Homo sapiens: one gene and its partners. The protein of the gene in region 2 interacts with the protein of the main gene of each other region in a pairwise test. Each region holds a gene or a part of one and is shown on either strand. Other genes may lie near its edges.

Evidence for each region.
Region 1: the proteins of DCTD (region 2) and TXN2 interact in binary tests that used the Homo sapiens proteins (3 or more experiments, as listed by UniProt).
Region 3: the proteins of DCTD (region 2) and FGF12 interact in binary tests that used the Homo sapiens proteins (3 or more experiments, as listed by UniProt).
Region 4: the proteins of DCTD (region 2) and PICK1 interact in binary tests that used the Homo sapiens proteins (3 or more experiments, as listed by UniProt).

The regions. Positions count from the first base shown.
Region 1 is NC_000022.11:36,471,630-36,478,664, reverse strand, and holds part of TXN2 (thioredoxin, mitochondrial precursor), read left to right. Parts: intron 1-1,808; coding exon 1,809-1,932; intron 1,933-7,035.
Region 2 is NC_000004.12:182,889,561-182,893,391, reverse strand, and holds the end of DCTD (deoxycytidylate deaminase), read left to right. Parts: intron 1-264; coding exon 265-361; intron 362-1,914; coding exon 1,915-1,993; 3' UTR 1,994-3,301; downstream 3,302-3,831. UniProt on the Homo sapiens protein: Catalyzes the deamination of dCMP to dUMP, providing the nucleoside monophosphate substrate for the thymidylate synthase/TYMS.
Region 3 is NC_000003.12:192,724,508-192,731,918, forward strand, and holds the start of FGF12 (fibroblast growth factor 12), read right to left. Parts: upstream 3,035-7,411; 5' UTR 2,977-3,034; intron 2,817-2,976; 5' UTR 2,687-2,816; coding exon 2,674-2,686; intron 1-2,673. UniProt on the Homo sapiens protein: Involved in nervous system development and function. Involved in the positive regulation of voltage-gated sodium channel activity. Promotes neuronal excitability by elevating the voltage dependence of neuronal sodium channel SCN8A fast inactivation.
Region 4 is NC_000022.11:38,060,404-38,067,438, forward strand, and holds part of PICK1 (PRKCA-binding protein), read left to right. Parts: intron 1-4,598; coding exon 4,599-4,727; intron 4,728-7,035. UniProt on the Homo sapiens protein: Probable adapter protein that bind to and organize the subcellular localization of a variety of membrane proteins containing some PDZ recognition sequence.

The DNA of each region.
Region 1 (7,035 bases), on a different chromosome or scaffold from region 2:
AAACCGTCAGGCCTGGCTGGGTGCGGTGTGCACCACCACACCTGCTACTCAGGAGGCTGAGGCAGGAGAATTGCTTGAACCCGGGAGGCGGAAGTTGCAGTGAGCCGAGATCGCGCCATTGCACTCCAGCCTGGGCAACAGAGTGAGACTCCATCTCAAAAATAAATAAGTAAGTGCTGAGAATAAAATAGGAGTTGTCAGCCAGGGGTTTGTGAAAGGTGGAACTGTCTTGGCCTCCTGGTGTAGTGAGCATTCCAGAGAGGCCTTCCGAAATGAACAATAAATGGGATAATGCCTCATTTTGTTCAGTAAGGAAGTGGGGTGGTGTGAGTTGTTCATTCAGTGCCAGGCACTTTCCTTGGTGCCACATACATAGAGATGACAGCACCAGGCCTGTCCTGGATGAGCTTCCCCAGCGAGAGGGGAATACCTATGATCAGGGCAGTGATAATGGTCAACTCAGGGGCTGTGGGATCAGAGTAGCCTGTGGGTGAAATAAAACACTTTCTCTTTTTTTTTTTTTTTTTTTTTTGAGACAGAGTCTCTGTCGCCCAGGCTGGAGTGCAGTGGCACAATCTCAGCTCACTTCAACCTCTGCCTCCCAGGTTAAAGTGATTCTCCTGCCTCAGCCTTCCTAGAAGCTGGGATTACAGGCGCACACCACCACTCCTGGCTAATCTTTGTATTTTTAGTAGAGACGAGGTTTTACCATGTTGGCCAGGCTGATCTTGAACTCCTGACCTCAGGTGATCCGCCTGCCTCGGCCTCCCAAAGTGCTGGAATTATAGGCGTGGGTCACCGCACCCGGCCAAAGAAAACACTTTCAACACAGCTTTGGGTTGTGATCGATCCCAGCTGTGCTTCTCTAATCTTGCACAGGTTTCTTAACTCGTATGGGCTTCAGTTTCTTTGGAAGGTGTGTTCTCTTTGCAGAGTTGAGGGGTGTGTTTGGTAAAAGCAGAGAAAGTGAGCCAGGGACTGGTGCGTTGTAGACGCTCCAGGCCATTGGTTCCCCTCCTTTTAGTTCTGAGTCCACATGGTGTTTGAAATATCCCCACAGCTTCCAATGCATGTTTACCCACATTGCCTTAGTTGATCTCTCCTAATAGCTTTGAGAGCCATAATCTCTCTTTTTCAGATGAAGAAACTAGGGCCCAGGCCGGGCGCGGTGGCTCATGCCTGTAATCCCAGCACTTTGGGAGGCCGAGACAGGCGGATCACGAGGTCAGGAGATCGAGACCATCCTGGCTAACACGGTGAAACCCCGTCTCTACTAAAAAATACAAAAAATTAGCTGGGCGTGTTGGCAGGCACCTGTAGTCCCAGCTACTGAGGAAGCTGAGGCAGGAGAATGGCGTAAACCAGGGAGGCGGAGCTTGCAGTGAGCCGAGATCGCGCCACTGCACTCCAGCCTGGGGGATAGAGCGAGACTCCGTCTCAAAAAAAGAAAAAAAGGAAACTAGGGCCCCAGAATAATCAGCTGGTTGGTGAGAAGCCTCTGTTTGAACCTTTTAACTTCCAATCCCATATCCTTTTATATGACAGTATATTTATCTGAGATATACTGAAATGAGTCACTTTTATTATGAGTCTTCTGATGAGGCCTGTGTTTTAAAAGTCTGGGATCTGTGAAGATTTCCCATGTGCAGAATCTCCTGGCATTACCATTTGGTGTGTTAATTTTTAAACATGGTAAACAGAGATAATAAGGGCAAAAGATTCCTTGGAAAGATGCAGGTCTGGGAAGCCAGTAGGGGATGCTGAGCGCTCTTTTGACTGACTGGATGCTTCCTTTCTCGCCTTTTGAGGTGGTGTGGACCCTGCAAGATCCTGGGGCCGAGGTTAGAGAAGATGGTGGCCAAGCAGCACGGGAAGGTGGTGATGGCCAAGGTGGATATTGATGACCACACAGACCTCGCCATTGAGTATGAGGTATGGATTGACAGGGAGTTGCCACAGGGAAGCCAGTATAGGAGGTGTCAGGCCCAGGGATAGCTGGTGTAGGAGGTATCTTGGGGAGCACAGGTAGCCAGTAAGCAAGGTGTCTTGGTTTTTCCAGAGCTTTTTTTTTTTGAGACGGAATCTCTCACTGTCACCTGGGCTAGAGTGCAATGGCATGATCTCGGCTCATTGCAACCTCTGCCTCCCGGGTTCACGCGATTCTCCTGCCTCAGCCTCCCAAGTAGCTGGGACTACAGGCGCACACCACCACGCCCAGCTAATTTTTTGTATTTTTAGTAGAGACAGGGTATCACCATGTTGGCCAGACTGGTCTGGAACTCCTGACCTTATGATCCACCCACCTTGGCCTCCCAAAGTGCTGGGATTACAGGCATGAGCCACTGCGCCCAGCCGGTTTTTCGAGAGCTTTTAAGAGCTCAGAGCACTTTGCAGAGGTGGCTCTTGATCCTCTGAGCCACCTGTCTCTCTTCACCACCTTTAGGAAGTAGATCGTATGACCCAAAAACACCAGGTCATTCACTTAGTCTCAGACATTGGTACATTCCTTTATCCATCTACCCACATGTTCAGTGAGCAGTCATTTGGGAGCTCGATGTGCCAAGCATTTGTGATTCTGACACAAGATGAGATCTTGTTTCCAAGCAAGATCTCTCCTAGTCTAGCAGGAGAGAACAGCAGGTAGAAAGATCATCTCAATATAGAAGTGCTAAAAGAAGAGGCGCATAAAGGAAGAAGGGACTGTTTGCTTGTGGGGGAGCTGGAGGGGACAGGGAATGCTTCACGTTAGAGAGAACCTCTGAGCTGAGCCATGAGGGATGCGCAGAGGAGGAGGAAGGGCTGAGGAAACAGCGTGCACAAAGACATGGAGTCGTCTCACTTGGTTGGTTGGTTTGTCTGTTTATTCAGCAGATATTTGAGAGTCCCTCAAGTGCCAGGTAGTGTTACTTGGTGTTGAGGATAAGGCAGTGAACAAAACTGACAAAATCTCTGCCTCCGTGGAGTCTACATTCTAGTATTTTAAATCAAGGGTCAGCAAACTTTTTCTCTAAAGGACTGGTTGGTATTGGAAGCATTGCAGGGCAGTGGTCGCTGCTACAACCATTCAGCTGGGCTCGTAGCCGAAAGCAGCCATAGACACTATACAAACAAATGGGCATGGCTGTGTTACAATAAAACTTTATTTACAAAAACAAGCAGTAGGCTGTATTGGGCCTGTGAACTATAGTTTGCTGACCCCTGTTTTAGATAATAAGTTCAATGGAGAAAAATACATCAGGAAGAGAGGATGGGAGTACTGCGTATGAGGCAGGGTTTTTGTTTTTTCGAGACAGAGTTTTGCTCTTGTTGCCCAAGCTGGAGTGCAGTGGCACAATCTCGGCTCACTGCAACCTCTGCCTCCCGGGTTCAAGCAGTTCTCCTGTCCCAGCCTCCGGAGTAGCTGAGATTACAGGCACGCGCCACCACGCCGGCTAATTTTTTGTATTTTTAGTAGAAATGAGGTTTCACCATGTTAGCCAGGCTGGTCTTGATCTCCTGACCTCGGGTGACCCACCTGCCTTGGCCTCCCAAAGTGCTGGGATTACAGGCGTAAGCCACCGCGCCCAGCGGGTTTCTTTTTTAAAGGGTGGGATAGGGTAGATCTCCCTGATAAGCTGACCTTTGGGCAAAAACAGGAAGGGAGTGACTGAAGCATGTGGGTCTTTGGAAGAACAATTCAGGCAAAGCAAAAGCCCTGAGGTCTGATGAGCCTGGGTTGCTTACAGACCAGCAGGGGCCAGGTGCCTGGAGGTGTCTGGGTTGGGGGCTTCCTCTGGGCCTTGGAGACCACTACCTGGAGAAAGGGGAGAGGCCCACTTTGTCTGGGTGGCCAGAGTGAAGGGCCGAGTACGGAGCTGGGGAAAGCATAATGCAGCCGGATTGGGAGGGTCTCTGAATAGCCATGCTGAAGGTAGCGCTGTTACAGAGCCGAGGGCGCTCCTGGCAGCCTCTGGGCCCAACCTGGCTCACAGACACTTTTAGTCTGGCACTCGAAGTATTTTAAAGTAATAGGAAGCAGATGCTGATATTTGAAACTCAGATTTCATGTGAAAATCTCGATATCTGATTTTCTTGAAATATCTTAACCTGGCCGGAGTGAGCCTTCACCCCTCCCTCCTTCCTCCTCCAGGTAACAAGTGAATGAAAGAGGCCGCTTTATTCCTCAGAGTATACAAGTCCAGGTTTCACTCTTACTAGACCAGCTCAAATAGAGGCACCCATCCCTGAACCAGTCTCCTGCAGCAAGAAATGGGTGGTTGGGAGCGGGGTGAGAACAGGCTGGCCGCCCCTTGAGCTACGCAGGGAGTGGGGAGTGATTACCCAAAGGAACATCAGTCTGCAATGACCAGAAGCAGGGGAGATGGAGACCAGGCAGACAAACACGGTGGCCACTACAGGTGACCACTGGAGCAGGCCTGCTTTGGGAGTTAGGAACTGAGGGCTGTTTACAGGGGCTGGGGGAGGGGTGAGTCACTTTTTCAAAAAGTTTGGCCACTGATTGCTCAGTGAGGGAGGCATCTATCTGCCCATTTGGATGCCCCTGGCTTTCCCCTGCCTGGCTATGCCTCGGGTGAGAGCCCGGGCTGGGGCTCCTAGGGCCTCCCACAGGTCACGCGTGGGCTTCAGATGTCTCAGGCCTCCTGGCTCTGCCAGACACTACAGCTTCAGCTTCAGCCAATGTATTCATAACTCTTCAGCAGACACCCCCTGAGGGCCAGCCATGTGCAGGGACTATGGTAACTACTGCAGATGCAAAGAAGCCCACAGGCCCTGCTCCAGTGTCTCGTGGGGTGGCGGGAATGCCGAGGACCGTCCCCGGGAGGCTGTTGTGGGAGTGGGCACTGAAGGCCTGCGGTGAAGCCTGGGAAGTGAGAAGGAGATGCCTCCTGTGGAATCCTCTCAATCTCCCCCCACACCCACCGCTCCCGCCCTGTCCACTGCCTGGGGACTGTGCTGTCACACAGAAAGGCCTCAAGGCTGCTAGGCCCACATCACTTGGTCTCAGCCGTGTTGTTTAGCCAAACCCTGGTCTGACATCATTGCAGGGTTTAGGAAGCTCCAGCCAGGGTTCTTCCTGACCCCCTCCCTCTCTCCCTCCCTTCCTTCTTTCCTTCCTTCCTCTTTTCTTTCTGAAGAGAGCCTGAGGAAGAAGTTTCCTCTGAGAGAACTACAGTGCCCCCCATGATGGCTTTCTTTAAGGCCTAAAATCCTTTTTCTTTTTTGAGATGGAGTCTCGCTCTGTCGCCCAGGCTGGAGTGCAATGGCACGATCTCGGTTCACTGCAACCTCCGCTTCTCAGGTTCAAGCGATTCTCCTGCCTCAGCCTCCCGAGTAGCTGGGATTACAGGTGCCCACGACCACGCCCAGCTAATTTTTGTAGTTTTAATAGAGACAAGGTTTTACCATGTTTGCCAGGCTGGTCTCAAACTCCTGACATCAGGTGATCAGCCCGCCTCGGCCTCCCAAAGTGCTAGGATTGCGGGCGTGAGCCACTACACCTGGCCTAATTTTTGTATTTTTAGTAGAGATGGGGTTTCACCATGTTGACCAGATTGGTCTCAAACTCCTCACCTCAAGTGATTCGCCCACCTCGGCCTCCCAGAGTGCTGGCATTACAGGCATGAGCCACCGCGCCCGGCCACCAAGACTGCATTTCTAACAAGCTCCCAGGTAATGCCAGGGCTGGGTGTCCTGAGCCGACATGGAGAGAAGCCAATGTTCTGAAGGCCCCATACTGACTTTTTCATTCTGAAGGCCCCAGATTGACTTTCTGGTTCTGAAGGCCCCGGACTGACTTTCTGTGGGGAGGAACTGCTCTTTGGAAGGCCGTGTCTCAGCTGCCGCTCTCAGCACAGACTGCTTGCCAGTGAGAAAGTTCATGGACAAATGTATAATGGCATGTGTCCACCATTCCAGCGCCATACAGAACCGTTCCACCGCCCTCGGTTCCCCTGTTTTCCAGCAGTTCACCTCTCCTTCCTGCCCCTCACCCCCTTAACCCCCCAGCAGTCACTGATCTCATTTTTTGTTGTTGTTCTTTTTGAGGATTTTATGTTTTTAGGGCAGTTTTAGGTTCGTGGCAAAATTGAGAGGAAGGGGAAGGTACAGAGACTTCCCATAAGTCCCCTGTCCTCCCGCATGCCCAGCCTCCCACACTATCAACAGCCCATACCAGGGTGGTCCATTTGTCACAACTTATGAACCTACACGGACATCATTATCCCCCAAAGCCAAAAGTTTACATAGGGGATCACTCTTGGTGTTGTGCCTGCTGTGGGTTTGGACAAATGTGTCATAGCCGGTGTCCACATTCTAGCATCATCCAGAGTCATTTCACTGCCTCCATGTCCTCTCTCCTCTGCCTGTTCATCTCTCCTTCCTCCTCCCTCCAGGCCTGGCGACTCTTGATCTTTTCACTGTCTACCTAATTCTGCCAGAATGTTATGTAGTTCATTTTTTCAATAATCGTTTTTCCAAGAACCCTCTCATATCTAAAAGCTTTTACAAAGCACTTGGCATTTTGCATTTGAAGCATGAAATCCTTTAATGCGTCCCCACGTTCTTCCCCCTGCTGGGACTCAGTAGATGTCTCTCTCTCTTTGCTGCTGGGCAGAAGCACAACAGAGTTTGATCCCCTGGACTGCAAAGTCAAACAGATCTTGTTTCAGATCCCAGCTTTTTTTTTTTTTTTTTTTTAGAGGGGGTCTCACTCTTTTCACCCAGGTGGAGTGAAGTGGCGCAATCTCGGCTCACTGCGACCTCCATCTCCCGCATTCAAGCACTTCTCCTGCCTCAGCCTCCCAAAGTGCTGGAATTACAGGCGTGAGCCACCACGCCCGGCCTAATTTTTGTATTTTTGGTAGAGACAAGGTTTCACCACATTGGCCGGCCTTGTCTCGAATTCCTGACCTCAGATGATTCACCTTCCTCAGCCTCCCAAAGTGCTGGGATTACAGGCAGGAGCTGCCGCGCCTGTCCTACACCACATCATTTTGGAACAGTTGCTCACCCTTTGAGCCTCAGTATTCTCATCGT
Region 2 (3,831 bases):
CAAGGCTTGACTACTTGACATGTTTTCCCTTTGCATTTGTTTAAAAAAAAAATCCATAAAGACTGGAGGGAAGATTAGATAGAATCCACCCTCTGCTGTATTAGAAAGCAGCAGATATGTATTTCAGTGACTGGACACTGTCTGCAAGCACACTCAGAAAAGGTCATTAATCATAGACGCTGAAAGTGCTCCAGCTGCTTCCGCCTGTCTTTTGCAGCATCTGTAGGTGCGTACACTAAGGGAGCTCCCATTGTTACCTTACAGGTATAAAAGAAGTGATTTTCATGTCTGATAAATACCATGATAGTGACGAGGCAACTGCTGCGAGGCTCCTGTTTAATATGGCCGGGGTGACATTCCGGTAAGTGGGGAGAATGCGGGCGGGGGGACGGGGTAGGGTGAAGGCTGATGAAGAGATGTATTTGACCTTGTCTCCTCCTTGTGATGCCTGACTTCCACACTTGGAGGTGTCTTTAGAAATGCAAGGGCATAAGAATTTAAAGACTATTATAGGGGTAGATATTTAAGAGCAGTGACAGGAAAATCTGAAGACCATTTGTTTAATGATTGTACTTTAATTTCAGTAACTTTCCGGGGTAATTAGACTAATTATTCAAGTACTGAGAAGTTTAAACATTCACAAGTTTTATAATAGGAATGCCAAACCTTGGTGAATTTTGCAAATGTAACAACTTTGGCATAGAAAATTTAGGATGAAAGTAGCCTGCCAGATTGAAACATTGGGGATTCTCTCTTTTTTTTTTGAGACGGAGTCTCGCTCTGTCACCAGGCTAGAGTGCAGTGGTGCGATCCTGGCTCACTGCAACCTCCGCTTCTCAGGTTCAAGCGGTTCTCCTGCCTCAGCCTCCCCTGCCACACCCAGCTAATTTTTTTGTACTTTCAGTAGAGACGGGGTTTCACCATGTTGGCCAGGATGACCTCATGAGCTGCCTGCCTCAGCCTCCCAAAGTGCTGGGATTACAGGTGTGAGCCACCTGGGGATTCTTTTTACAGCAACATTTTGCATTGAGATTTGAAGTCTTACAGATTTTTATGATTATCTTTGCTAAGAAATGGTTGTGAGCTATATTTTACTTGCAAGTAAGTTCAACTACCTTTGATTCATGGCAGAAAATTCCTTTGGGACTGTAAAGTTTTCCAGCGCTTCATGGTATTGGCGTTCAGCAGCAGTGGGACCATGGTCATAGGTGACGTGCCCTGGCCCCTTGTGCTGGTCATTAGGGATACAGCTCAGTGTATCTCATGAACTCAACCGTGGTGCCTTCTGAGACTTTAAATTCAAATTATTTGTATACTCTCTTGTTCAGTGATTCTTAAAAGAATTTGTTTTGTTCCCAAATGTCTTCTTTTTAATTGTTGTAGAAGAAATGAGGAACAAGTGAAAAGTTAATGAGCAAAAAAAAAAAAAAAAAAGTTGGTTTATGTTTGCATTTTTAGAATGTAATTTGAAAAATTACTCCTCACTAAAGGTAGTCGTTTTTTGCTATATATAAGCGGCAAAAGAAAATTTACTATTTTTTTGCATTAGAGAGACTCCAAGTTGGCTGCAGAAATTTTTCTAGAAAATAAGATAAATCTGATGGGAAAACTAGTAATCGGATATCATGTTGTGCAGCTGACTTGTTAGAAATCCTTTGACTCCCCAATAATTCGTGAACTCAGAGAGCTGAAAACATACAAACCACACCACCCCATGCATCTTTTTTTGTCTTAGTCTTTTCTGCTCTGTGTTTCTCTTGGTATGGTGCACTATAATTGGCTCCTATAGAGAGAAAATAGCAAGTGAATCCCAGGACATATTTTTCTCTGCACAGAAAATATGAGTTAAGCCAAAGTAAACAAATTGCTTTCACTACTCACCAGATAATAATTGTATTTTGTTTTTATTTTTAGGAAATTCATACCGAAGTGCAGCAAGATTGTCATTGACTTTGATTCAATTAACAGCAGACCGAGTCAAAAGCTTCAGTGAGTTACATCTCATTCAATCTCCAGAAGATTGGGATTATCGTCTTCTAAGAGGTTGCTAATGCCTTTCATCTTGAAGTTACACATAACTTCTTACTAGCCAGTATGGCAAAAGTAGGCATCTAAAGAATATAAAGCCTCAAATCTTCCTTACTGTCTCTCTTGTCACATGGAATCTACATGTGTTTGAACTATTGCTTTAGGGTTTAAAATAGGGGAGCCTGTGGTGGCCTGGTGCACAGGGCTAGAACGAGAGTGCCTCCCCTTCTTGTGTCCTGGCTGGCTGGGATGCTGGTGGCTCTTCAGAGGAGCATCAGCTGTCTGTCATCTGCTGCGATCCGGCAGCCTCTCTTCACTGCTACATGTGCTGGAAGGACAAATAAATAATTGTGGTTGTGTTCTTAATGGGGACGAGCAGACACACTGATCTGAACATCTGGCCCAAGTGAAGCATGGCATATAGTGCCCTTGGAAGAAAATTAGGCCTCAAATGACAGTAGCATTGAAGTGTTTGCTGCAGAGTTGAGGGAAACCCCCAGCCACCCTCCCGGAATCCGAGATAGGGTGGCACATCTGTCCTGACAGACGAGGAGTGTAACTGAACCAGGAATATTTCCTCCATTCCTGCTCTCCCACTGCACACAGGGTGGTGGCACATTATCCCTCTGGGGGGTGGGGACGCCTGTTGTTTTGGCTCAATTTGGGTTTGTTGGTCACATGGAGCTCTTCCATTTCGTTTAGCTGAATAATGAGTTGTTCCTAGAGGAGACAGCCTGTCTCTCCTTGTTGCCCCCAAAGCCCATGCCCTGCCGTGGTGGCAGCTGGGGCTGTGGATGGGAGGGGTCCCCAACATGGATGTGTTGCCCCTCCTCCGCATGCCAACGCAGTTCATGTACAAGGCCCCTCTGCAACTGGAGAGAAAATTAATTCCTATCCCGTGAGTGGATTGTGAGAAATTCCACCCACGTGGAGACAGCTTACTGCAGCACTGTTGGTGTTCGGAGCTCTTCTGTGCCCTGGCTCCATGCTTTCACCTACACAAGCATCACCTTCCTAATCACCGCGGGGCGGGGAGCGTGTGGCTGTGCCCCTTCTCTTTAATCTCATTTAATTTTTATTAAACATGCTCAGTACCTGTGTTGAGAAAAGGCTTTCTTTATCCTAAAGATTATTACCTTTTTAAAGTGCTCTTATATTTTCATGAGTTTTTATTTTGTCTCTGAGATTTTGTATTCCACATTCTAGGGTATTCTGTAATTTGGCTCCTTACCAATATTATTAAAATCTTATTAAAATCTACCCTACCAAAGCATGTACATTTTTATGTTATTATAATTATATGCTTAATTTTCTGCTCCTGTCCTTTCTGTATTGTCTCCGAAGCATATTACATATGTTTTAATGCTCAAAGAATAATTTGAGATGCCCAAGCTGTGTGCGTTCCCCAGGGTTGATGTCTGGGGCTGCTTTATGGATCAGATTTATGTAAAATGCGAAGGCAGCCGCTAGCCCTACGCTCTCTCCTGTGTACCCTGCCCCTGGTCCCAGGTGTGGCCATCTATCTGGTAGGGCCCAGGCCTCTGTCCTCCCGGAAGGCTTCAGTCCTGAGTTCTGCCCTTTGCTGACTTCTCACCTTATCCTCTTTCCAAGTCTCTCTTCTCTTCTCTCCTAAATTTCCTTCTCTTTTCTCCTCCAAACTCCTCGCCCTGTGTTTGCTCCAAAATACATAAAACAAAAGGTATGTGGAAAAAAGAATCAGTAGACTTAAAGGTAGAAAATTAGAGATTTCTCTATTGCCGCAAGTCACAAGAGTTGTGAGTCCTGTTAGGATGGAGTGTGTCA
Region 3 (7,411 bases), on a different chromosome or scaffold from region 2:
AACTCATTTAAGAATCTCAAGCCCTTAAGATACGCAAGGCACAAATTCCGTCAGAGCTGCTCGGACTGCGTACCAACCCAAATCTTTGAGACAATGTTAAGTACATGGTGCACAAAAATCGCTGAAATTAGATCATGAATTGAACCTCAGGTCAACTGATGTATTTTCCTCTCTTCTTTACCCTGTATGACAGGGAGTGATGCAAAGTTGTAAATAAGGAAGCAAAAATAAATTGATCTTATTTGTAAATAGCTGAAGTTCAACTTTCTGGATGCTGGACAAATGCTCTAAGAAAGGCTGTCAAATGCTAGAGGTAATGTGAAAGTTGTCAAGTGTTGGCGATGGGATTCAAGATTAAACAGGCCATTAGATCTGGGTATGGGATAGAGAACTCTTGAACCCTCAACTGAGTCACGCAATATGACTCTATCTTTAAAGAGTTTCTACTAGAAAAGTATTATATATACATACATTTGAGAATGTCTTCCTAGAATTAGATTTGAATCTGTTGGGGGAAGAAGTTTGTACACGGCAGCATAAAATGTGAAAGATGCACCAATTACAGTATTGCACAAATACACATTTCTCTTAATACACTCTTTTTGGCTGGAATAAAAATTTCAAGTTAGCTACCATCGTTAGCTGTGCCATTTGCACCAACTTAGAAAGTGAGGCCAATGTATAAGTAATTAGCCATTTTTAATCTGATTGCCAAGCAGCTAACACAGCTTCATTAAGAAAGTCCAGGAACTAACATGCATAAAGACTTTCATCATGTTTTTTTTTTTTTTCAGAGGCAATTATGGGACCTCTGCAAAATGACCACAATGTTGGCCTACAGCAAAAGTCTTCGTTGCCTTTGGATCAGTGCTGTGATTCACTATATCATTGCTGTCTGGATTGACATAGAACTTCTGAACTGATTCTTTTCGGATGTATTTCTGAGATTCTTTCTCCTTTCTGAATTCAAAAGACTGAAAGAACAGCTAGAACTCTACTGTTAGCAATATGATCATTAAACCACCTGGAATGCTAAGTGACACGTAGCATGTTTTATGGGCAACGAAGGAAAATAAAAGATTACTGCCGAGAGATATAGCCTCTTTTTATGATTGAACAGGAATTAGTATACACATTGGAGGCAAAACTGTTACCAAGAACCTTTGTCAAATAACTAAATTTAGTGACCAAATACCAGGTGTCATCTAAGCAAGAAAAACTGTTTCATAGTAAAATGATATTCTTTTTCTGTTGTTAACCTTATGTCCCAGAAATACTTAGTCAGCTAGAATATTACAAACCTTTATATGTTAAGGACTGCCTTTTTATTTTAAAATGGAGTATAATAGAGTTAATAATATATGCCTCAAATATACTTATAGACATGGATTCTCTCATATGTGTACATCATTGTCAGACGTGGAGATGCCCATCAATGTATCATAAGAATAATCTGCCTGAACTGAAAATTGCCTGCTAGTCTTAATCCATGTTGATTCAGCTCTTTTTATACTATAAATGCTTGCCTAGGTTCAAATACTTTAAATCTACCAATTAAATACTTAAAACACTTTATTGAACATAGAACTGCTATCATTCAACACTCCAGTTTCATTAATCAGCCCAGAAATAGGTAACTCACCACCATTCCCTGATCCTAAGTACATTACCACAGTGACTGACATTCCTGGTTTAAAAATAAAATCTTGTTTCAAATATAGCTTCCCGAGTTCTGGGTAATGAATATAGTTTCATAAAAGTTGACATCATTTCTTCTGATTTCGCCAGAATTAAATACATCCAGTATGCCTCCTGGATATCTGACCACCATATCACTCAAGGCTCTCACAACCTGGTGGGCGTTTTAAGGAGAAGGAGAAACAGACCTGCATAGATGGGGTTAAATCCAAAAGATATCTAATCTTGTGGTTAGAATAGTCGTTGTGTTTATGTGTGTTCAATATGCCATTCAGAAGTTGATTTTTACAGTTCATTTATCAGTTGGCATGCATACATTATGCAGATTTGCTTATGAGGAGAACATTAATATGTACATGTCCAGAACTAGTAAATGCATTATGCTTGGAAGCCAAGCAGTACTCCCATACACTGTTCTTCTTAGAGGTCAGTTCTAACGCATGCTGTTCCAAATAGACCCAATTTCTCTGCTGATATATATTCAAAATGCAGTAGGATGTGGTCATACACACCCAGAAATACCATCTTCATGAGGTGGGGGTGGTGAAATTCAAACATTTTTTTTTTAGCAATGCATTATTGGATATCAGGTACAAACGTGCCTGTCAGCAATTCTAAAGCAAATGAAATAGATTTATTTGAGTCCATCCATTATACAGAAAAGATATTGCTTTACTAACACATACCTCCTCCTCCTCCTCCATTTTGGGGGGACTCTCCCCACCTCCCCCCAAAAAACTCATCACAGTTCACTACGCAACTGATGGAGTATTAAACACTGTCTTCCAAGCTGTGGGAGTTAAAAAGAAGTCGCCTTCCTGCCACACTTCCCCAGTGCTGCAATGGACATAGCATCTCCTCCTCTATCGACCTAGTATGATGCTCGCTCCCCAAGCACTGCAGTCCCCTCGCCGAGGATTGCCTTGGCCACACGCACATGCAGCGGGAAGTCCCCCGATAGGGACAACCACATACCTTTGCTCTCCATTTCGGTCCCTTTCGAGTGCTGGGAAGTTCAATGGAAGTTGGCCGGAAGATGTGGGCCCGCTTCAGATTCCCAAATCTGGGAAGCCAATCTGATGATTTCGCCCGTACTTCCTTCCTTCCCCTCAGGCTTCCTGAAAGATGGGATTTCTTAAACCTTGAAGCTGCAATCAGCCACCAAAGGACACTTAGGAGCAGCAGCAGATTGCCTCTACAGGGGATACGTTGCGACGCGCATCTGATACTGAAATGCATGCACAGTGCCCGCTCAGATTTTTTTTTTTTTTTTTTTACCTGGGTCTGGAAGCTGCAGGCAGGAGCTGTCCTCCGAGCGTGGTGCTGCAGGTGTAGTGACAGATCATCCCACTTTGCTCTCTGGATGCACAGCAGATTTGCATGGGCGCTGGCACGCATGCGCAGGGCGTCCCCCCTCCCCTTTTCACCGCCTCCCGCTCCCCCGCCCCCTTCGCCTCCCTCCCCAATACGGTCCTCAGTTATCCCAGCTGAGGAGCTGTAGCATTCGGTCACAGGGAAGCGCTGCTAAAAATAAACGCCGGACCGGATTTTCCTCTGCAAACTAGAAAATGGATTGGACTAGTACTGCGTGCATCAGGACGAATTACTGAAGTCTTAGAGGAGGCTAGTGTCTCCAGGCAGGGTATGGTTTTATTCAGAAGGCAGGGAGGAGAGATTTACGAATCGTTTTTAATGTTCACAATTTGGGTTTCTCTTTCTACTTGCTGCAGTAACTTTCCAGCTGTCTGCTTCCCTCTCCTCTCCCCACTGACTTCACATTGCTTGTTATATTCCTGTATGTGTTTTGTTTTGTTTTTCGAGAGTGGGGTGAGAGTAGTTATGGAGCTGTCAAAGGTTAATATTCTCTCGCTTCTTTGTTACTCAAACTCAGTGTTTTCCTGCCTGCCTCCACCTCAAAACTGTTCCATGAGCAGGCTCCAAGGCTTCTAAAGTTCTTCAAAAAAGCCACTGAGGATATTTTGAGGTGCTCTTTTTAGCTTTTTTCCAACAACCTGCAAGAAGTCCCCAAAGGTGGGGAGGCGTCTTATTGATAATAAGTACTTCCAAAAGCAATACCTAATCATTTTTGTGAAGTTGCAGGGATAGAGTATTTTTCTTGTACAGAGCTCTAGAGGAAGATGCAAAACCACAAATCTCTTGAAGTGCTACTTTCATATCAAAATATTTCTAAAGCCCACACTGTATTTCGTTTATATGCAAAATGTTTAACAGGAAAAATTGTGTTGTATTTACTACCTTTTTTTTTCAATAGTCCAGATTTTCCTGAGGTGATCATCTCTCCTTGAGAATAATAATCTTATTCTCCAGAAGTCCAGAAAACTCTGTTATCTGAAATGGTTAAGGAAGGAGATGTGCAGATTAGTCACATACTCTACTTCATGAAAGATCCTTCCACAGTAGGCTTCTAGTCCCAATTTTCAAAACATTGAAATATAATAAAATGTACTCCCAACAAGAAACCTGGAGTTGTATCTAATTTAATCTTTTTCTGGTGATTCAGAGGGCATCCTTTGATTTTTCCAATGCCTGAGGGCCATGATTACAAATATTAACCACGGATGGTTCAGCCAGACATGGACATTATTAGTGGAGGACTCCCACTAATGAACTGCTGTGGGTCAGCAACGCCTGGATCCATTCAGCATTTAGGAGTATCGGATTGCAGAGGCCACAACCTAGGGCCTACTAATTTTTAGGTTCTCCAACTGTATGCCAAAGTACGTGTTTGGAAGAATCATAAAATTCAGGATTTCTTTTCAATGTTGAATAGGCTTAGGAAGTAAGCTTAGGGTGGGAGTAGTGTTGCTCCTTAAGAACAATAGTCTATTTCATTGAGATAAATAATTTCTGCTCTTAATACTGCACCCCGTTACATGTTCTTTCCTTCTCAAAGGTTTTAGAATAGGAGATATCTTTAGAATGCATCTCTATGTACTCTTCATATTTATTCTTTTACAGACGGAGAAACTAAAGGCAGGGGAGGAGTGGCACTTGAAAAGAGTCACATGGTGAACCAGATCTGGGCTCAGAACCTAAGTGTCATACCTCAAAGGCAGAGGCAAGCCATCTATAGTCCAGAATGATTTTTCATATAACTGCCTTCCCATTATCTACAGTGAATAAGAACAGGGAGAACCTTCTAGTTCATAAATTATCATTATTTTTATTCATAATTTTAAGAACCCAGCTGCTTTATTAAATAGAAAGCAAATCAAATTTAATGCAAAATTTGTGTTCTGACATTCAAGATCTTTCCATTCTTCTCCAAGCTTAACTCCTAGACAACAATTGCTATTATCCTAAACAAACCTCAAGATTGTTTTTAAACCAGGGGAAAGTGGGATCACAGACCCCCACTACCACAAATTATGCAGTCTAGTTTCCCACGTATGGGGAAATTGCAGGGGTCAGCACATCTGGAATGCAATTGATAAGCCTTGACTGGGAAAACAACCTTCTTGCTCATGATAGCTCCTCTGTCAAGATTTTTCTTACCTTTGCTTACATAGTCATTGCTGGAATATCTTGACCTCATCAAACCACTACCTACCACAAGTATCTACAAATTCAAATCTTATATTTTCCTCTAGATCCATCTCCTTCTTACAGTCTTCCCTGATACTCTTAGTCTGAAAATATTCTCTACCAAGAACACTGATGATCCGCTCACTAATGATTCCAAAACTGATGAGTTACTTCTCTTCCATCACTATTTTTTATTCTGTACCAGAATGATTTATGTATATATCTTGTTCCTTTTTCCCACTCATATTTTTAAATGGCCTCCTTTTACTTCAGTGTAGTCTAGAGTGTCCTGAACATAGGAAACAATAAAAATGTTTCATGAATTAATAACATTTAGCATACATGTTTTTGTGTACTTTACTATGTGACATTAACTACAATCACCATGATAACAAAATGATGATAATATTGACCTAACATTGCTCAGAGCTTACTATGTGCCAGGTACTATAAGGATTCTAAATGTTTAATGAATATTATCTTTATTCATTAAATAAGCTATATGAACATGCAAACGGCCAATAAATATATGAAAAAAAGTTCAACATCACTAATCATCAGAGAAATGCATATTAAAACCACAAAGAGATATCATTTCATCCCAGTTAGGATGGCTATTATCAAAAGACAAAGAAAATAAAGCACATGCTAGTGAGGAAGCAGACAGAAGGGAATTCTTATGCACTGTTGGTGGGAATGTAAACTAGTACAGTCACTATGGAGAACAGTATTGAGTTTTCTAAAAAAAAAAAAAAAAAAAAACTAGAATTACCATATGATCCAGCAATCCCACTACTGGGAATTTATCCAAAAGAAAGGGAATCAGTATATCAAAGAGATATCTGCACCCATATGTTTATTGCAGCACTATTACAATAGTCAAAATATGGAATCAACTTAGGTGTCCAACAACAAATGAATGCATAAAGAAAGTGGGGTACATATACACAATAAAATATTATTCAGCCATAAAAAAGAATGGAATCCTGTCATTTGCAGCAACATAGATGAAACTGAAGGACATTATGCTTGATGAAATAAGCCTAAGAAACAGAAAGTTAAACACCACATGTTCTCACTCATACGTGTAAGATAAAAGAAAAAGTTGATTTCATAGAAGTAAAAAGTAGAACAAAGGATAGGAGGAGCTGGGAAGGGTAGGGGGAAGGAGGGAGAGATTTGTAAAAGGATACAATATTACAGCTAGGTGGGAGGAATAAGTTCTAGTGTTCTATACGACTGTAATATGGTTATAGTTAATAATAATATTTTACATACTTTAAAATCAGCAGAAGGAGGATATTGAAGTTTCCCAACACAAAGAAATGATCAATATTTGAGATGATGAATATAATAATTACCCTGATCTGATCACTTACATTATATGTATTGAAATGTCACTGTTTACCCCATGAATGTGTACAATTATTATTTGTCAATTTAAGAAATAAAATAAAATATTATGAGGTTAGTACTATTATGATCTCTGTTTTAAAGATAAGCAACCTGGAGCACAGAGAGGTTAAAGTATGAATAAAACATGATCTCTGCCGTACAGAAGCATAAAGTCTATTGAAGATGATAGAAACATAAATGATTTTAAAAGCTATCGTAAGGTATAAGATAGGTTGTCACAGGTGGAGTAGGAGGTGCAGAAGAGTTGGCAGTCAGCCAGCCTGAGGGTTTTAAGAAAGTTTCCTGGAGGAGACATATATAGAGCTAGTTCTTGAAGTGTGAGCTTCACAGGGTTGGGGTATGAGTGTGGGGCAGGGACCATGTGAGTGTGCAAAAGTACTTTTGGACATAAGAAGTTATTATCATTTTCCAGGTTTCTCTGCCAGATGTGAATCTCCAATGTCAAAGAGGAAAGTGGACGGAGGCAGAGAAATGCTTAGTACTGTTCCGGGATCAGAGCTACAAAACTCCAGAGTATCTGGGAGAGATCATATCTCTTTATCTCACCTAAGTTTTCTATCATACATTTGAATAGAGAGACAGTAGAGCATAGTGAAAAAAATAGATTCTGGAACCAGACAGACGTGGGCTCAAATACAATTTGCTTCTTATTATTTATGGTACCATCTTGGGCAATTAATCCATTTGGGTCCTATTTTTTTAATCTGGAAAAGTAAGTAATATCTTCTTGTAGGCAGAGCTGTTGTAAGGA
Region 4 (7,035 bases), on a different chromosome or scaffold from region 2:
CACTGTGTGGCTCATCCAAGTCAGTGACCTTGCTGTAGCCTTGGGAATACCTGTTCTAACCCTCTCACTGGTGGCAGATGGGAAACTGGCCTCTGTGAGGATCTTGCTCAGGAGTCGCTTGTAGGCCTCGAAGACAGATTCCCAGGATCGACCTGGTCTTGCTTCTGCTCACAGTGCTGCCTCCTTCATGAGCCATTCGGCCTCCTGTGACCCAGGAGGCATTAGCAAGACCTCCCCCAGGCCTGGCCTCCTGGCCGTGTGTCTGCTCAGCCTCTCGCCACCTCCCTCTACCTACCTCAGGTGCAAGTTTGCTTAGAATGAACAGACATCATAAAATAGTATAATTGATTTTTTTTTTTTTTTGAGACAGAGTCTCACTGTGTTGCCCAGGCTGGAGTGCAGTGGCGTGATCTCAGCTCACTGCAACCTCTGCCTCCTGGATTCAAACGATTCTCATGCCTCAGCCTCCCGAGTAGCTGGTATTACAGGTGTGCGCCATCATGCCCAGCTAATTTTCGTATTTGTAGGAGAGAGAGGTTTTAGCTATGTTGGCCGGCCTGGTCTCGAACTCCTGGCCTCAAGCGATCCACCCACCTCAGCCTCCCAAAGTGCTAGGATTACAGGCATGAACCACCAGCCAATAAAATAATAGAACTGGCCGGGTGCGGTGGCTCACACCTGTAATCCCAGCACTTTGGGAGGCTGAGGTGGGCAGATCACCTGAGGTGAAAACTTCCAGACAAGCTTGGCCAACATGGTGAAACCCTGTCTCTACTAAAATACAAAAATTAGCCAGGCATGATGGCGGGTTCCTGTAATCCCAGCTACTTGGGAGGCTGAGACAGGAGAATCGCTTGAACCCGGGAGATGGTGGTTGCAGTAAGCCGAGATCGTGCCATTGCACTCCAGCCTGGGCAGTTGAGTGAGACTCCGTCTCAAAAATAATAATAATCATCATCATCATAGAATTGATTTTTTTAAATTCAATTTTGTTTTTATCAAAGTGCCATATGACTTGCCTCTACCAAGTCAAGAGCATTAAAAGCCCTGTATCAAATAATAGCAATCCACTGCCCTTCCCCTGGGCACCTCACCCGGCTTTCTCTGTCTCTTCATGCATGGGCTTCCATTTTTCTCAATAGTCTCACTCTGTCGCCCAGGCTGGAGTGCAGTGGTGCAAGCATGGGTCACTGCAGCCTTGATTTCCCCAGACTCAGATGATTCTCCCACTTGAGCCTCCAAGTAGCTGGGATTACAGGCACGTGCCACCAAACCTGGCTAATTTTTGTGTATTTTTTGTAGAGACGGTGTTTTGCCATGTTGCCCAGGCTTGTCTCAAACTCTTGGGTTCAAGTGATCCACCCGCCTCAGCCTCCCAAAGTGCTGGGATTACAGGCGTGAGCCACCGTGCTCAGCCTATCCTGTTGTTTCTTGATCTATCACCTGTAAATATCTATTGACTTTGCCTCGTCTGGTAGATGAGAATTTAGTTCTTCCCATGACCAGTCTGTTTCCTCTCATCCCACCTTTCCAACATAGTTATTTTTCTATTTTTGGCTAAATTAATATTAGTACAACGGAGATTTTGTTCGGGAAATCTTTTCCAGATGCCTCCTAGGCTCTGTTGTAGGCACTAGGGATAAAAGAATAAGAAAGCAAAGATCCTACTCTTGCGGAGCCCTCATTCTAGTCAAAACAACTCTATGTTTAACTTTCTGAGGAATCTATGTTTCTTTTCTTAATTCAGCCTGTTCTTGTGTTTTGAGAGGGTGGGGGTAATTTCCTGTTTTGTTTTTTTCATTTGCACTCTCCTTGTTTTCTCAGTATGTTTTCCACAATTTCCCATCTTTTTTTTTTTTTTTTTAAATTAAGTCTTGCTCTGTTGCCAGGCTGGAGTGCAATGGCGTGATCTTGGCTCACTGCAACCTCCAGCCCCCGGGTTCAAGTGATTCCCCTGCCTCAGCCTCCGAAGTAGCTGGGATTACAGGCACGTGCCACCACGCCTGGCTAATTCTTGTATTTTTAGTAGAGACGGGGTTTCACCATGTTGGTCAGGCTGGTCTCGAACTCCTGACTTCAAGTGATCCACCTGCCTCGACCTCCCAAAGTGCTGGGATTACAGGCGTGAGCCACCATGCCCGGCCCCATTTTCTTCAGTCTGTTTTCCGCCCTGTAGTCTCTCCCCCTTGTGCCCTCCCCCTGCCCCTGCCCCTTCTCTTTGGATTCCCCCATCTTGGGGGTCCCTTTCCTGGTTTACTCCCTGATCTCCCGTGGAGAATATCCTCCTGTAGCTTTCTGAGAAAGGGCACGTGGGATGTCAATTTTTTGAGACCTCGGGTCTGTCTTTTTTGGTCATTGTGGTTCCCATATTCCTTTCAGTTGACATTTTGGCTCATTCGATTCAAGAATGAACGTCAAGGTTGACAGTAATTCCTGTGTGGAAGTGTGATGGCCTTGTCACATTGTCCTTTGCTGTCACATGGCTATTGCCATTCTTATTGGTGATCCTTTATTTGTGATGTGTTTTATTTCTGATCTGTGAGAACTTTGAGGACTTTGTTTTTGTCCCTGGTGTTGGGAGGAGTCGTGATGGTAGCTGCAGGCACAGGCTTTTGTTTATTGTGCCAGATCCTCAGAGGGCGTCATCGGGAACACCATGTCCTTCTTGTCATGTATCTCGATGATGACATCCTGCTTTCTGTATTCTCTGTTCTGCTTTTTTCTATTTTTTTATTGTGGTAAAATTTACCATCTTAACTTTTTTTTTTTTTGAGACAGGATCTTGCTCTGTCGCCCAGGCTGGAGTGCAGGGGTGCGATCATGGCTCACTGCAGCCTCAACCTCCTGGGCTCAAGCGATCCTCCCACCTCAGACCCCCGAGTAGCTGGGACTACAGGCACGCGCCACCATGCCTGGCTCATTTTTGTATTTTTTTTGTAGAGACAGAGTTTTGCCATATTGCCCAGGCGATCTTCCCACCTCGGTTTCCCAAAATGCTGGGATTACAGGTGCGCACCACCGTGCCCAGCCCTTGGTCTATTTTTGAATTAGGTTGTTTGGTTTTTGTTGTTGAGTTTTAAGAATTCTCTACAAAGCACAATCGGCTAAGAGGAAAAAAAGAAAAAAGAGTTTTAGGAATTCTGCATATATTCTGGATATTAATCCCTTATCAAAAATGTGATTTGCAAATATTTTCTCCCATTCTGTGGGTTGCCTTTCTTTTCTTCTCTTCTCTGTTCTTTTTTTTTTTTTTTTTCGAGACAGTGTCTCACTCTGTTGCCCAAGCTGGAGTACAGTGACGGGATCTCAGCTCACTGCAGCCTCTGTTTCCCAGGCTCAAGCGATCCTCCCACCTCAGCCTCCCAAGTAGCTGGGACTACAGGCGTACACCACCATGCCCAGCTAATTTTCGTGTTTTTTGTAGAGACAAGGTTTTGCCACATTGCCCAGACTGGATGGTGTATTTTGATGCACCAGTTTTAAAATTTTTATGAAGTTCAATTTGTTTATTTTTTGTTACTTGGATCTTAGGTGTCACATCCAAGAAATTACTGTAAACTCCAATGTCGTGAAGGTTTTGGACTAGGCATTTTTCTGAGTTTTATAGTTTTAACTTTTACATTTAGGTCTTTGAACAATTTTGAGTTAATTATTATTATTATTATTATCTTCGAGACAGAGTCTCGTTCTGTTGCTCAGGCTGGAGTGCAGTGACATGATCTCGGCTTACTACAACCTCCACTTCCCAGGTTCAAGCGATTCTCCTGCCTCAGCCTTCTGAGTAGCTGGGACTGCAGGCGCCTGCCACCATGCCCAGCTAATTTTTGTATTTTTAGTAGAGATGGGGTTTCGCCATGTTGGCCAGGTTACTCTCGAATTCCTGACCTCAGGTGATCTGCCTGCCTTGGCCTCCCAGAGTGTTGGAATTACAGGTGTGAGCCACTGCGCCTGGCCTTGAGTTAATTTTTGTATGTGGTGTTAAGTAGTGTCAACTTCATTTTTCACATACCATTGTTGAAATGACTGTCCTTCCCCATTGAATGTTCTTGACACCCTTGTCAAAAATCATTTGATGCCGCCGGGCACGGTGGCTCACACCTGTAATCCCAGCACTTTGGGAGGCCAAAGCAGGTGGATCACCTGAGGTCGGGAGTTTGAGACCAGCCTGACCAACATGGAGAAACCCTGTCTCTACTAAAGATACGAAATTAGCCGGGCGTGGTAGCGCATGCCTGTAACCCCAGCTACTCGGGAGGCTGAGGCAGGAGAATTGCTTGAACCCGGGAGGCGGAGGTTGCGGTGAGCGAGATGGCGCTATTGCACTCCAGCCTGGGCAACAAGAGCGAAACGCCGACTCAAAAAAAAGAAATCATTTGACTATGTATTTGAGGCAGGAGAATTGCTGGAGCCCAGGAGTTCAGTGCCACAGTGAGCTGTGATCACGCCACTGCACTCCAGCCCGGGTGGTGAGACGCTTTCTCAAAAAACGAGAGCAGAGGGTAGAGTGGAAGACAGAGCCAGGCAGTGGTCAGGTGTCTTCCCAGGTTCCATCTTAGCCCTCCCTTTCTTCCCCCACCACTCTCCTTATGCACCCACAGGTATTTGACAACACCCCAGCAGCCTTGGACGGCACAGTGGCAGCTGGCGATGAGATCACCGGTGTCAATGGCAGGTCAATCAAAGGGAAAACTAAGGTGGAGGTGGCGAAGATGATTCAGGAGGTGAAGGTAAGGGCTGCTGCAGAGCAGGTGTCCAGAGGCAGCAACACATGTTTCTGAGACCTCCAGGCTGCCAGAGGTCCCAGCAGGCCTGGAAGGGGGTATCAGCCCTCACCGCCCCCTTCCTTGTCATGTGCAGGGTCAGGGTCACACTCCAGCCTCCCTCATCCATCCCTCATTCATTCAATAAATACTAATCGTGCTCCAGGACTTGTGCTGAACCTTGGCAAGAGAGTGGGCAGCAAGACCACAAGGTCCCCATGAGCTCCCAGGGAGCTGACAGACTTGGAACCACCCCTCAGGCAAGCCCATGTGTCCCCAGTCAGTGCCAGAGCTGAAGCTAAAAGTCCAAGGTGATCCTCCCTGGGTCAGTAGACACCCAATAATGTCAGCCGGGTCACGCTGGGCCTGTGAGGGCTAGGAGGGAAAGAAGAGTGCCCTTTCCCCATCCTGTAGGAACTTTCGGTCCCACACAGCCTCCTGGGCTCATAGACACCCAGAGACCCCCCTCCCAGGCCAGCTGATCTTCTGCTCTACAGACCAGAGTCACACACTGCCTGCCCCGCTTTCCCCCACCCCTGCCGCTCCAGGACTGGAATGGCAGGCGGCATCCCGGCCTCTCCTGAAGCGAGCATGCAGCCCCTTTGCCATTTCCTAGCGAAGTGGCTGCTAGCTAGTCTCAGGAAACCAATACTGTGAAAGAACTGATGTGCAGGCAGTGCACAGCCATGGGGTGATTTGAAAGTCTCGGGGGCAAGGGTCCCCACTGTGAGTTCAGCTTGGCCAAGGGTGGCAGCTACCTCCCTCAGCCCCACTTCCATCCTCCGGGTTCTGGCACTCCTGATAGTCCGCCTTCCTGCCTTAACCCAGGCCAGCCGCTGCTCCATCCTCTCTCCCCTTTATCCTCCTGTCCTGCTCCTGAGTAGTCCGTGCTTCTCTCCTTCCTTGCTGTAGGAAGAGTCCCATCCTGCACATTCTCCTATTCCAGCCCCTTTAGCCATAGGACAAATCAGGGCCTGGGGCTGGGGCTCAGAGCTCTGTTGTAAAAAAAGGAAGCAGCAAGGTTCATTGAGACCCCACAGCTGCCACTCCACGTGGTCTGGGTATCACTGCCTCAGGTATGACCTGTTAGGCAGAGGAGCTGATCATGGGAACAGGTGCAGGGGGTCTCGTTCTGGCCGAGTTGGGTTGTGTGTGCCCCATTTGGCAGCCCTTCCCCCCTCCGCATCTCCTCCCCATCTCCACTCGCCAGGTCCCTCCCTGTCCTCTCAGGCTTGGTCATACCAGCACCTCAGGTTGCCCATGAGGACAAGAGCTCTTTGTATTTGCACACAGCCATGACAGGGATGCAGCATTGGCCCAGCTCCCCTGTTTGGGTGCTGGGCAGGGATTACTCTCCCATCTTACAGGTGTCCACAGGCGGGGAGTGACCTGCTTGTGGTCACACAGCTGAACTGGAGCCCGGGCCCGACTCCCACTGCAGCCCGCTTGCCGTTGGCCTACAGCTGCTCCCTGTGGGGTGGCCCCTGAGCACGCCTGTGTTTCATTCTGCGGGAGCAGTTCACACCCCACCTCTGACTCTGATTGCATCTGCTCATTTTGGTTTCCCTTTGGGACTTGATTTTAAAATCCTGTTTTATATTTGGATGAATGTGGTCCCAAGTTCAAGGGCTTTTGGTTTGCAAGGATGAGAGTGAACACAGCGCCCTCCCGTGCTCAGGCAAGTCCTCTTGGGAGAAGCCTTTGTCTCCTGAGCAGTCGTTAGAAAGTGGTTTGTGTAATTCCCTGATTCGCATCAGCCTTGCGGGGCTGGGGCTGCCCCTGCCCCTCCCCTTGGTGCCCCAGCACCAGGCACAGAGCAAGTGCTCAGATGTGCTGTTCGATGAGTAGAGGGATTCCTGGGGATGGGGTGTTTTGGGGTGGAGGAGGGAATAATCAGTGTAGGGAAATGACACGGCAAAGGCTTGGAGTGTGGTTTGCGTGGGGAGGGAAGAAGGAGAGCCTGACCTGGCCGAAGCACAAGACATCAGAGACCGCCAGGCTGTGGGCCCGGTGCCGGCCCTGTCCCCACTGATTCCCCAGGGCTTGGATGTAGAGTAGGAAGGGAGGGGCCTGGGATCAGACAGGGTCACAAGGTGGGGCCATGTCACAGCGCTCAGCCTGGCCCTTACTGGGGCTTAGGATTCTTTTTTTTTTTTTTTTTTTTGAGACAGAATCTCATTCTGTCATCCAGGCTGGAGTGCAATGGTGTGATCTCAGCTCACTGCAACCTCCGCCTCCCAGGTTCAAGTGATTCTTTGCCTCAGCCTCCTGAGCA